2 separate regions of the Homo sapiens genome follow, and region 1 is linked to region 2. Evidence: fine-mapped expression QTL. A gene starts in region 2. The other region holds a variant in brackets. All regions are shown on one strand. Distances are between the middles of the regions. Region 1 has its middle 3.4 kb from the start of OR10P1. Region 2 holds the start of TMT1B (thiol methyltransferase 1B).

The links. PIP is the estimated chance that this variant, and not a neighbour inherited with it, causes the effect. A credible set is the group of variants that fine-mapping cannot tell apart.
Region 1: its variant is the best candidate, but not a certain one, in a credible set for the expression of TMT1B in atrial appendage (GTEx, PIP 0.51).

The regions. Positions count from the first base shown.
Region 1 is chr12:55,632,009-55,634,925 of GRCh38, reverse strand. No RefSeq gene overlaps it. Among named protein-coding and RNA genes, the nearest start is that of OR10P1, 3.4 kb to the left of the region's middle. The variant T/C (reference allele first, on the strand shown) is at 1,563.
Region 2 is chr12:55,680,390-55,683,306 of GRCh38, reverse strand. TMT1B (thiol methyltransferase 1B) reads right to left here and starts at 1,571. Exons shown (of 2, transcript NM_152637.3): 1 at 1,055-1,571. The coding sequence starts at 1,552. RefSeq lists an enhancer at 1,237-1,912.

The DNA of each region.
Region 1 (2,917 bases), 48 kb after region 2:
GAAACTGGACTGGACTTTCAGAAGTCCTGGTCCCAAGATTCACGGAGCTTTGATCACCCATATTGACCCACGCCATGAGGTTAGTCTGGCCATCTTCATATTTAGGAAACAGAGCCTCAAAGTTCTATCCATTGCACTTAACTTTCATCCCACCCTCACTCTGCTCTCTCAACATATTTTTTTTTTTGTGGCCTTAAACCATTTATTCTAGCTTATGTTTGGAGAGTGCTGTGTGCTGGGGATTATACAGTATATCAGTTGACCTTTATAACAACATTAGTGACAATTGTTATTTTGTCATTGCAGATAAAGAACCAGAGCTCTGAGGGTTTAAACGACCTATGCAAGATCACAAAGTCAGTGAACAGCAGAACCAGAATTGTAATTTTGAGCCTGAGGTATCAACCACATACTTACTATATGTCTTGTGAGGCCAATAGCCTCACTCTACACTTTTGGGAGATGAACTTGCATGTAGTCAGTTTGGACAGAAGGAGTATCTGAGTTCATTAGTCCTCTCTACTTTCGTCCATAAATCTTCATGACATTTTGGGCTGGCTGATTAAAAAGGAAAAAAAAACTTTTCAGATGTCCACACCACCAAGAAAACACGAAATAGATCCTGATGTTTTCAAATTTTTAAAATGTTGTTTTTTTCAATTAAAAATATTTAGGAAACATTTGGAATAAATCCACCATTATTCCATCACCTTAAATTCTTTTTTTCTCATATATCACTCTCAAGTCTTTGTCCCACTGCAAACCCATATTCTATGCTTGTAGTCATAGTGTATATACCTTATGTCTTCTTTTCCTTTTTTAATGTTTGCTGTAAGCATTTTGCCATGAGACCGCATGGTATTCTGAACAATCTTTCAAAAAAAATTCTTGTAGTAGTCCATTGAATTTCTCCACTAACATTTAACAAACGCTTCTCATCCTTGTGCACTTTACGCTGTCCCATCTTTTTTTTGCTATGGTAGACAATGATGAAAACAATATTTTCATGTGTGTCTCAGTTTGCTCTGTTAGCTTATTCCCTTAGGGTAAATTAAGAGTAATATTATTGGCTAAGCATGTGGACATTTTTATGGGTCTCGCTGTGTTATAATTGTTTTGGATTCCTGTAGCTGGACACATGAGTGGCAATACCAACCTTTCATCTCTTAGTAAAACAGGTCCCTTAAAAAAAATTCAATAGCTTTAGGGGTACTAGTGGTTTTTGGTTACATGGATGAATTGTATAGTGATGAAGTCTGGCATTTTAGTGCACCCGTCATCCAAATAGTGTACATTGTGCCAATAGGATTTTTTTTTTTTTTTCCCCTCAGCCCTCTCTCACCCTGTCCTCTTCTGGACTCCTTGACCCTCCCTGTCCTCATCCAGGCCTGTCCCTCCCTCCATACTCACCTCACCTTTTCCACACTGTGAGCATTTCTTCACTCTCAGACCTCTAATTAGATTTTGCCTTAAGATGTCGTCCGTGAGGGTGGAGAGGCAAGTTTCCCCCAGATTGTCTGTTCTTCCTTCCCTATTTCCACTCTGACTCTGATAATTTCCCT[T/C]TTCCTCTTCCCACACATCCTGACACAGTTGGGACAATCTTCAGAGAGACATTGGCCCTGAAGTCACCACTAAACTTTTCAAAGCCTCCCACAGAGGATCGCTGAGAAAGACAGAGTAACTGCCCGCAGGGTCACAGAGAGGGGATGAAGTTCTTTTTAAAAAACACTATTTTTTATTGTGGTGAAAACATATAACATAAAATTTACTATCTTAACCATTTTAAGTGTATGTCTCAGTATTGTTAAGTATATTCAACAGAGCTCTAGAACTTTTTCATTTTGCAAAATGAAAACTCTATACCCATTAAGCAATTCTCCATTTCCCCCTTCCGTGGCTCTTTTTAAAACCATAAAACCATCCGTATACCTCCAATAAGCCTTAGAGAGACAGGCAGATGGCAAATTGATCAGTGAATGGGCATGTGGCTTGGGGAACAGCTAACCTGTGGTTAACCAGCTAGATGGACAGAGGATGACCAGCAGGGTGTGGCTGGCTGGCTACAGGACTGGTTACCCGTGACCCCTGGATGCAGGAGATGAGGCTGTTAAAGGCTGAATGGAACAGAAAGCAGATCTTGAGGGGTAGCTTTGACATCTTGGGGGCAAGGGAGTTGGGATTCTGGAGCCTAATGGGGTTGCGGGAAATGGGGGAAATGAGGGAAGGACAACATTTATTGGGTCAGAGAGGTCTGGGGGAGCACAGCCAGGCAATAAACTAGCTTTTGTTCTTTCAGATTTTTTGTTTTGTCTAAAGTATTAATGGGAGCTGCACATGGTGTATATGTGTGTGTGTTGGAGAGGGTGTGGGGCAGCAAAGGAGGATGCAGGCAGCTGTCTGTGGGATCTGGGATGGGACCCATTAACAGGAGCCTGAGAGATGCTGACCATAGACAGTACTGAGGCTGTGATGCCCAGCTGACTTACACACTGCACGCAAACCCACAAGCCTGTACACACTATCCACTGCCTCACTCCATCACTTCACCCCACACACCCCATCCTATTAGACATACCACAGACATGCCTATGACACGATCACCACACTTATAACATGCTACACATACCCCACAGCATACCTACTCACACCATACATAAAAGGTTTGCACAGTCTGCGTATATACACACTTGCCTTGTTCTGTTATGTGCAGTTTTATCTGGCAGAAATTGTCCAACATTCTCTGTCTCCTTCCCAGCCCTTCTCCCTGTCCAGCCAGCTTAATGATATCTGAATCACACCTCTGCAAATGCAATAGTAGAGATTTGGGAACCGTCTCTGGACTTTTTTCTCCCACGCCCAGGGACAGATACTGACTCCCAACACACAGCAAGAGGTCCTAAGGCCCTGAATGGGCCCT
Region 2 (2,917 bases):
GGCCAGTCTGGTTTCAAACTCCTGGCCTCAAGAGATCCACCTGCCTTGCCTCCCAAAGTGCTGGATTACAGGCGTGAGCCACCTCGCCCAGCTGGGCTTATTGTATTCTGAGATACACGCACAACCTCTCTCACAAAACCCAGATGCATGCACAAGCTGCTTCCTGGACATCGCTGTGAACATCCCAGGGAAACCTCAGGCCCAACTCTTGACTGAAGCTGGGGTTCCTCAAGCTCCTCGCCTCACTATACTCTCCCTAGGTGATCTCAAACCTAGTAAGTCCAAAACAGCTTTCTTCCATCTCAGCAAATGGCACTTTTCATCAGCTCTCCCCTCAGTTGCTCATGCTAGAAACCTGGAAACTATTCTGAACGTTCTCTCCACAGTCTGATGGATTCTACTCTACTTCCCCTACTATCTTTACCTAGAACACTCTTTTATTTTCCCCACCCCGTCCACACTCTGCTTAATCCCTCAGATCTCTCTCTCTCTCTCTCTTTTTATTTATTTATTTATTTTTTTTGATACAGGGTCTCACTCTGTGGCCCAGGCTGGAGTGCAGTGGTGCGATCATAGTTCACTGTAACTTTGAACTCGGGCTCAAGTGATCCTCCCACCTCAGCTTCCTGAGTAGCTAGGACTATAGGCATGTGCCACCACGCCTGGCTAGCTTTTGTATTTTTTTTTTTTTTTTTTTTTGTAGAGACGGCATCTCACTATGTTGCCTTGGCTGGTCTTGAACTCCTGGGCTCAAGTCATCCTTCTGCTTCAGCCTCCCAAGCACAGATCTCGATTTAAACCTCAGTTCCTTAGGTGTCCTCCCCACTCCCCTCCCTGTCCCATGGTGGTAGGTGATCCTCCTGTTGCTTCCACAGCACCCAATTGTGCCCCGTCATGGCACTGGTCATGTCTCCTATTCACCAGCAGGTAGAGGTGGATGGGGTGTCTAATGTGCTACTTACTACCTCAGACGCCCCATTCTGGGGGCCGAACCCTGGGGCGGCTGATGCTGCGTTTGCCTGCCCCACACCCATCCCCTTCCCACCCTGCTTACCGGTCTCAGTACTCTCCGGACCTCCTGCAGGACCTTCCTTGGGCTCTGCACAGAGCACAGCACCAGAGTGCAGACCACCACATCCATGGAGCCATCAGCCAGCTGTCTCATGTCCTCTCCAGGAGCCACCACAAACCGCTCATATTGGAGGTGCCTGTTCTCAGCCATGCTCTTTGTCAGGAACTTCTCAAAGTGGGGATTTGGGTCTAGGCAGGTGACCCTGCAGCCCGGTGGGTAGAACTGAAAGTTGGCTCCGGTTCCGCAGCCCAGCTCCAGTAGGGCCACTTTCCCGGAGGCTCCTGTAAGCCCCTTTATCTGGCTGAAGAGCTCCCGTTTCTTGCTCTCCATCTTGCGGTTGCTCTTGGGAGTCAGCACGGCCATCAGGTAGGGGAAGTAGCTTTTGCACAGGGGCTGCCAGCAGCCCAGCAGAGCCATGAGGTGCAGGGGCAGGGTAAGAAGCAGCACCAGCAGCTGCAGGAGTGGGACCAGGATGTCCATGGCAGACCAGCTCTGAGCTGTGCTTCCGCTGGGGCACTGGCTTTTTCCCTGCTCAGCCTCTGCAGGCGCTGGCGTCCCCTCCCGCTGTGATAGGACTTTGCTCCTTGTCTCCTACTTGACAATTTCCTATTTGCCAGAGTTGAGTGGGTGTATGGAATTCCTCCAGAGGGCGCAGGTCCCACAGCCCCACAAGCTCTTCAATGACTTTTATGTGGGCGGAGGGACAGGTGGTACCCATGTTCCTGAGTTCTGGGGCACTGTGCCCAGCTGAAGGGGGGCAGGGGCTGCTGAGTCATCTCAGAGGGAGTGGGAAGGGGTAAGGGGATATGTTTCAGATGACAGACTCATGGCGGGGGAGTGTCGGGGGCTGGCAGGGCGTTGGGGGTGGGTTGGTAGTGGTGAATGCTGGGGACAGAGTTGACTCATGGGACATATCCTGGCCTCATTTCGTCCTCAGGTCAGGCACTTCAGAGGGGCCATAGGAAGGGAAGGGTGCTCTTGGCAGAGGAAAAAGTAGGTGTACAGGACAGAGACAGCATGCCCTCTCCTGGAAAGGGTGAGAAGTTTAGTTCTGTGGGGAATGGGGTAAGTTGGACAAATAGGGGGAAGTGAGGTCAGAGAATAGCCACTTTTTAGAGATCCTTCCCTCCCTCCCTCCCTTCCTCCCTTCTTTCCTTCTTTCCTTTTTTTGAGACAGGGTCTCTGCTGCCCAGGCTGGGGTGCAGTGGCAGCAGTCTGGGCTCACTGCAACCTCAATGTCCCTAGGCTCAAGTGATCCTCTTACACCAGCCTCCTGATTTTCTGGGACTACAAGTGCATACCACCATGCCCAGCAATTTTTTTTTTTCTGTAATTTGTAGAGACAGGGTTTCACCCTGTTGCCCAGGTTGGTCTTGAACTCCTGGGCTCAGGTGATCCACCCACCTCGACTTCCCAAAGTGCTGGGATTACAGTTGGGAGCCACTGCGCCTGGCTGAGAAGAATTCTTTTTACAAAACATTATTAAACAACTTTTTTTGGAAGAGGCAGTACATTCACTTAGTACAAAATTAAAAAGATACTAAAGAGATTACAGGGAAAATTCTCTCTTCTACTCCTGTGACCCAACCACTCAGATCTCCTCTCTGGAGGCACTAAATGCCATATTGCCAATTTCTTGTGAATCCTTCCAGAGATGACCTGTGAACGAGCAGGGAACACACACACCACGTGTTTAGATCCATGTACATATATACATATACATATTCCCTTTTCTTTTACAAATAGTAGTATATTGTACACACTCTTGTATACCTTGCTTCCCCCCCTTCTTAACAATGTATTGGATTTAGTAGATAATAGCAAATGGGTTTCCAAAGTGATTGT